Homo sapiens: one gene and its partner. The protein of the gene in region 1 purifies or fractionates together with the protein of each later gene. This does not show direct contact. Each region holds a gene or a part of one and is shown in the gene's direction. Other genes may lie near its edges. The genes, in order: AGT and RIPK4.

Region 1 (3,811 bases):
ACCCTGCAGTTTCCCGCTCACATGCCCTTCCGAGACTGAGTGCTCCGAGGACTGAGGACGAGAAATATGCCAGGTCTGCCACTGCCTTCTTACGAGACCCGGACCCAGGGGAGGCACAGCCATGCCCAGCTCCTGCCTGCCAGTTCTGTCCTCCCAGCTGCCCTACTTTCATGCTGGGACCTCCAATTCAGTACAAAGGGAGACCTCACTGTTTCTGAACCATCTCTACTCAGACTCCCAAGTGCCACGTGCCCAGGGGACTGTTCTGTGACAAACTTATACACAACTTCACCCTATTCTCCTAAGAACAACCGCAGAATAGGCCTTTCAGGATGAGTGGGAGGACAGCCGAGGGCAGGGATGTGCTAGTGTAAGGTCGAGGCAGAGGGTGGGCTGCTGTCATGGAAAGACCCCAGGTAACTGCGTCACACACAAATTTGTGTCCTTCTCCCACAACGGGCTCTCCCGAGTTCTCTGTCATCTGCACGGCCCTGTGAGCAGGAGGGGAAACAGAGGGCTCACCCCTGCCCCCAAGGCCCAGTGTGCAAATCCATTCATCACAACGAGGTTGTGTGAGTCTCCCCAGTAGCAAGGGCTGCTGAGGAATGGAGCCCTCGTTTCCGGGGCCTGCGTGGCCCACTCTGTATTCTATGACTGTGATGGGGGAGGGTGGGGGCCACAGGACAGCTGGTGGGCTCTGCCATGGCTGGGGCTAGACATGGATTAAAAAGTGAGTATGAGCAGGGGCCTCTAGGAGTGGTGGGATAGTGCGGTGGTGGCCACATGTCATTCTACGTGCGTCCAAACCTACAGAATGTAAAACACCAGGAGGGAGACTCAAAGAAAACTATCAACTTTGAGTGCTGAGGACGTGTCAGTGTAGGTTCGTCAGTTGCAACAAATGGGCCACGCTGGTGTGAGATGTTGATCACGGGGGAGGCTGTGTAGTGGGGGACAAGAGTTATATGGGAACTTTCTGTACTTTCTGCTCGATTTTGCTGTGAACCTAAAGTCACTCTAAAAAATAACATCTCTTAAATTTTTTAAAAAGTGAGTGTGTCAAACCACAGCCTTTGGGTCAGGACAGTTCTAGGTTTGAGTTGACCTGGCAGGTACCAGTGGCTTATGTCCCTTAAGGTGACAGATGCAAAACCCCCGGTTTGGTGCCTGGCATGTTGTGTGTCTTGCAGGTGGCGGTTAGGGCTGCCTCAGTGAACTCAAATGGCTGCATTTTACAGGAGAAATATTTGAGCCACACTTGCGGTCCTGTGGCCAGGAGAATGCAGAGTGGCCTGGGGGGGGCCAAGGAAGGAGGCTGAGGCAGGGCGAGGGGCAGGATCTGGGCCTTTGGTGTCTGCCAGCCCTCATTCCTGCCCCTGTCTTGGGTGACTCTTCCCTCCCTGTCTCCTGTCTGGATTTCAGGGAAGATGAAGGGCTTCTCCCTGCTGGCCGAGCCCCAGGAGTTCTGGGTGGACAACAGCACCTCAGTGTCTGTTCCCATGCTCTCTGGCATGGGCACCTTCCAGCACTGGAGTGACATCCAGGACAACTTCTCGGTGACTCAAGTGCCCTTCACTGAGAGCGCCTGCCTGCTGCTGATCCAGCCTCACTATGCCTCTGACCTGGACAAGGTGGAGGGTCTCACTTTCCAGCAAAACTCCCTCAACTGGATGAAGAAACTATCTCCCCGGTAGGAGCCTCCCGGTCTCCCCTGGAATGTGGGAGCCACACTGTCCTGCCCAGGCTGGGGGCGGGGTGGGGAGTAGACACACCTGAGCTGAGCCTTGGGTGCAGAGCAGGGCAGGGCCGCGGTGGCACGGGGCTGGGCAGGCGGCCTGTGTGTCTGTCTACCAGTCCTCTATCCAGCCAGCACCCAGCTCTCCAGTTAGTGTCTGTCTTTCAAGTGCAGGCAAGGTAAAGGAGGAGAGGAAGAATGCTTTTTCTACACTTACACTTGCCTGGTAGTTTTGGAGGGGGAGAAAACATTGCAATCCGCCCTCTGAGAGAGGACCATTTTGGTCCCACACCTGACACACAGCACACCTGTGACATCCAAGAGCTTCTTGGAACTGACTTGCCAGGAGGGTTCGGACTTCGCGTGAGCGGGGGTGGGGCCTTCTCAGGGAGCGTCCCTTGACTCCAGAACGCCCTTGCTGGCGGCTGGCGGCTGGGTGGGGATAGGTGTTGTTAGCTCCTCTTTCCTGCTGCAATTCCTTTCCACAGAGCCCTGGACTCAAACTACACATCACCCCAGATCATCGAGGCCTGGAAATCTGCTCCCAGAGGCAGGCATTGAGTGACACGATGGCTTGACATCAACTCTGGGTGTTTTTTATGTTTTAAAAATTGTGATGGTAAAATATACGTAACAAAATTTGCCATCGTAACCATTTTCGAGTGCACAGTTCAGTGGTACTAGGCCCATTCACACTGTTGTGCAGCCATCACCCCCGTCCATCTCCATTTATCTTCTCAACTTCCCAAACTGAAGCTCTGTCCTGCTGAAACACTAACTCTCCATTTCCCCTTCCCCTTGGCCCCGGCAACCACCACGATGTCCTCGAGGTTCACCCATGTTGTAGCACATGTCAGAATGTCCTTCCTTTTGAAGGCTGAATAATATTCCATTGCATGTGGTTACCACCTTTTGTGTATCCACTCATCCATCGATGGACACGTGGGTTGCTTCCACCTTTGAGCTGCTGTGAATAGTGCAGTGTACCCTGTAAACATGGGTGTACTGTCAGCTCTTATAAGTGCTTGATACATCACTGGAAATGTCCATGGGCTCTGAAGGATGCCAAAAGATGGAAGAGGCTCTATACGAAGATCAATCGAGTTGACATAGCAACGTGTCCAGCACGAGGTTGACACTGTACCCTCCTGCCTCTCTCCTTTTCATGGGTGTCATGTCATCAAGAACACTGCTGTGGCAGTAGTAAGACACAGTGCATTATTTCAGAGAATAGCATTTAAAAATTACCCAAGTAACACACCTTCAATGCAGCCAACCTAAAAACAGAATGCACCAAAGGACAACCATTCCTAGGTCCTCATCGGTAAATCTTCTATGTCCCTCACATAGTATTGCAAATGACATGAAGGATTTTTATTGTAGGTTTTGCTGAAATTTTCCCCAAGGGGGAGGATGACTTAGTTGGGTGATGGGGGGAGCAAACATCCCTGTCGTCAGGGTTGGGTGCAAGGAGCATAAGCCTGCCTGGCCTCTGGGAGAGCCCTCACTGTGTGGCCTGGAGCCTTCCTAACTGTGCATCATCTCCCCAGGACCATCCACCTGACCATGCCCCAACTGGTGCTGCAAGGATCTTATGACCTGCAGGACCTGCTCGCCCAGGCTGAGCTGCCCGCCATTCTGCACACCGAGCTGAACCTGCAAAAATTGAGCAATGACCGCATCAGGGTGGGGGAGGTATGTGTGAGCCTGTGTCTGTGCCTGACCTGGGTTCCAAGTGTGCACAGGGTGGGAGGCATGGATGTAAGGGACACAGAGGAGGCTATGGGTGGGGCCAGCAGGGCAAGAGGGAGCGGAGAGTAGGGCCAAAGGTGGGAGAGAAGTAGCCAGAGCATTCTGGGGCCTTCCAGGTGCAGAGCAGCAAATCCCTCCCCATCCCTGCTGTGCCTCCTCCTGCTAGGTGTGTGTTCCATGGTCCTGCTTGGCCTTGCCTTGCCTCAGGGTCCTCCAGGGTTCCTATAGTGGAGTTGAAACCGGGATGAAGACAGCAAGCACCCCTGGACCTGGTGCCCTGGGCCCAGCCCCTTCTTCAGGGAAATGCTGAGCAGCAGACAGAAT
Region 2 (3,811 bases), on another chromosome or scaffold:
GCCTCTCAAGGTGGTCTGGGGTCTCCTGGCTCCCTGCAGCTCCCCTGGGCCAGGCCTTCAGCCGGCCCTTGGCCACAGCACCTGCTCGGGGCTTGTTTGATGAGCAGGCTGCGCCAGGCCATGTGAGCTTGCTTTTCTGTGCAGGAAAGGTTGGGGGGCCGCCCAGCCCCCAGACACTTAGCGAGGCTCCCAGGGACAGGAAGTGCCTGCCAGGGGGCCCTCCTGGGAGTTCACAGGTGACACCCCATTGATCTGAGATTACCTTCATCATGGGGCTCGGTGCCTCGGAGGGTCCTGTGGGGTGGCTTTGGAGAGGCAGCTGGCCTCCCTGGCTGACCCTCATTGTGGGGGTCACAGGGCCTAGGGTGGGGTGTAGGGATGGGTGCTGTGACCAGTTTGGAGAGAATAAAGTGATCCCAAAGGCCCCGTTCCTCCCCTACCAGCCCCCAGCTAAGGGGATGCTCAGAAGAAGCCAGTGCCTGCGGGGCGCCGGCTGGGAGACGCTCCTGCCACATTCAGCCCTGGCTGGTCGGGGCGAGCCTGAGCAAACCCCAGGTTTGTAACAACAGAGCTGACGATTGGACAAGCCCGTTTCTTGTCAGTTTTAAAAATAGCCGTGTGGGAACCCCTCCGAGGCTCCCTGGGAACATAATTGGATTGGTGTGCAGAAGGCCTCGCTGAGAGGCATCAGCTAACAGATGATGAAACACATTTTCCGGCTGCATTTTCCTGAAGGTAGTTGCTAGGTTTCTCCTTCGGAGCTCTTTGTTACCTGAGCGGTCTCACCGTCTCCCCCACCTCCCTGCTTCTCACTTTTCCCTTCGTTTATTGCTTCTCCGCTTGCACAAGACCATGTCCCGGGGCAGTTCTTTCCCCCTTTCCAGGATGCGTGCTTGCAGGGGAAACCGCAGCTGGCCTGGTCCACAGGTCTTTGGAATTTCTGAGCCTGGAGAAGAACCTTGGGACTTCTTTAGAAGTTCCTTTTAGAGATGATTGGTGTGATGATATTTCTCGTATTTCTCGCTACTCCATTGGCCTCCCTGGGAGGGCGAAATACACTTTGGCTAGCCCTAAATGAGGAGAAAACCGAATTCATCTAAGTGCTACTCACCGTATCTTTAAAAAGTTGAACCCCAAGTTAATCCTAATTAATGCCCAGAGATTTTTCATGTGGAACCCAAAACAGGACCCAGGACACTTTTGCGGGGGAGGGGGGGCTTTTCCCGTTCCTGCGTGGAAGCAGAATTAGCAACGCTTTCACCAGCAGCGAAGGAGAGGGGAATAGGATGCCACCCCCTCTGAACTGTGCCTAAGCGTAGCTGCGCTTGGAGCAAGGCACAGTTTTTAGGTTGTGTTTTAATTAACACCGACGAGAGGGGCTTCTGGTCAACCCAGAAACGTTGACTTCACTGTCAACAGTAAGAAATGCGATTTGGAGACGGTGCGAATGTGACTGTGTGATGTTCTGTGCTCCCTGGCCGCCACCCCAGCACCTAGGCTGGATTCGGCATCTCTCCACGTGTTAAAATGATAATAGTAATAAATCTACAGTTCCTTTTGTGTGGTCATCAGAATAAGCCAGAATCATTAAAATAAGCCAGAAACACTGCTTAGGAGAAAAAAATGTATTAAAAAAAATAGTGCCATTGCTCAAAAGCAATTGGTGGGTTCTTTCTGTGCTTCGAGTACCTGAGCACTTCTTAACCTCCCTGATCAGAAAAGCCTCTTCTTGCAGCTTGTTGCAAAGAGGCCCTTTCAGGCTTATTGAATTGCAAATGCCGCCGGGCGACACCCGACCCCAGAAGGGCTGGAGCTTCCTAAAGCCGCTGGAGTTTCCCAGATGTGCGCCTAGGGAGCACCTGGAGAGGGGCTGGAAGGCGGGGTCGTGTGGGTTTTGGCCCAGTGGTTACTGGATGGTAAACAGTGTGGAAAGTTTCTGAGGACATGCTGGTGCTTCTGAGCGAAATCCAGGCTGGTAGGCAAGGGAGCCGCCCCACCCCCACTCCTGGGCCTCAGATCTCCCACAGGGCGGTCCCGGGACCCCCTTCCTCAGCTGGAATCCTGTCTACCCCAAGCCAGTTTGGATCATGCTGTCACAACACTTTTGTCCACGGAAACAATGACTTTTTTTTTCCAGGACAGCTGATTTTCCTCGAGAAAGTGCCCTCAAATGTGTGGCCCATGGAAGGGGGAAGTCGTGCCGGGCTCCCTTCAGGCAGTTGCGCAAAGCTGGGGTGGACTCCGTTAGGAGATTCTAGCCGGGATCCGCTTTCAGGAGCCAACTAGCAGCAGTGGCCCTTTTTTGTTTGTTTGTTGTTTCTTTTAAAGTAAGGTAAATGGGGTCTCCGTTCTGCAGAAAGAGCCCGGGGCAGGGAGAGTAAAGTACTTGCTGAACTCGGTGCGCTGGGGAGGGGTGTGCACTGCTGCCAGCCCGTAGCTGTTAGAGTCGCCAATGAGCTCACTCTGCAATCAGAAGTCACCGGGGTTTTATGTATTAAGCCCTTTGGGCAAATAAAAGAAAACACTATTTGTGGAGTGGCTCAGAGCTTCCACTTAATAAGCTACTCAGCCTTCCTTTGATTGACATTGTTCTCAGAATACGTGTTTATTATCAGTCAGCTTTGGCTTAGAGAGTTCACTCTCAGAATGTCTACTTAATGTGGAAAAATGACCCTTGCGAATGGCTGGCCTCTAAACACCCGAATTGTCATTTCCTCAAAACCCTCCGGCGAGGAGGGTGTGCCTCACACGGTTGCACAGTGGATGTGGGTCTGAGTCCTACGGAAGGACTTTCGCCAGCGCCCCGGGGCAGAGTGTCCGGAGGAGGGAGGCCACACTGGTAGGGGAGGGGCGGCAAGCTGGCCACATTTGAGCAATCGGAAACAGACAAATCATAACTCTGATTCTTAACAAGACATAAAAGAGAAGCAGCAGCTGGTACCATGTCCCAGTCCGATGGTTTGGAAGTTAGTGGCAGTTGCCGGGTTGGAAGTTGTGCTGGTATTCCTTTAAATAACAAATGAGGGCCTCAGCCAACCGGTGTTCCCAGAGGAGGAGAAAGGCTGGGAGCTGAGAGGTGTCATTTTCCTTCTTTGGTGACCGGTTTCATTTTAGCTGATGCTTGACGTTGGCATCAGGTCCTCGTCTTCCTTTTTTCCCAATGCTCACTGAGACTGGGGACAGGGTTGAGAGTCCCACGATCTGATCTGCACCCCCCATCCCTTGATGGGTCCCAGAGCCTGGCCCAAGCCTGTGGCTGCAGGGAGAGGGATTTCCCCTGGAGAGGGAGGAAGCAGCCGATGGTATGCTGGTGATGGGGCAGCTTTCAGCTCAGCCCAGGGACCCCCACAGGCTAGCACTGCACACTGGTGGGCATCTTGTTTTCCATTAGTTGGTCATTTAACCAGAGCGCTAGGAAAGCAGGCCGTGCTCCCCTAAGTTTTGTCTCATAATAATTTCACGTTCATTCCTGATACTTGCTTCACTTGTTCCCAAGGCCAGTGGGATTCTTTGCTCCTTGAGTGTATTCAGACACACTCGACCTGCCCACCCCCCACACCCCCCAGCTGCTCCTCCTGGGGTGCTCCCGCGTCCACCGTAGAGAGCTGCCTAGTGACCCCTGGTGCAGCTCCAGAGAGGTCCTGCAAGCTTCTCCCCTCCACATGCAGTCAATGGACCCATCCTGCAGATTCTTCCAACAGAGTGTGTGTGCTCTGCTGGCTTCCCCTCTCTGCTTTGCCAAGCCCAAGGGGATCCACAGCGACTGCTCCGCTCTGCTGGCCTCCCGGGTGCCCCTGGACTCTGCGCAGGT

The links.
Region 2: the proteins of AGT (region 1) and RIPK4 purify together in Homo sapiens (affinity purification with mass spectrometry, with the first as the bait; 2 studies listed by BioGRID). This does not show direct contact.

The regions. Positions count from the first base shown.
Region 1 is NC_000001.11:230,703,812-230,707,622, reverse strand, and holds part of AGT (angiotensinogen precursor), read left to right. Parts: intron 1-1,422; coding exon 1,423-1,690; intron 1,691-3,285; coding exon 3,286-3,430; intron 3,431-3,811. UniProt on the Homo sapiens protein: Essential component of the renin-angiotensin system (RAS), a potent regulator of blood pressure, body fluid and electrolyte homeostasis.
Region 2 is NC_000021.9:41,760,509-41,764,319, reverse strand, and holds part of RIPK4 (receptor-interacting serine/threonine-protein kinase 4), read left to right. Parts: intron 1-3,811.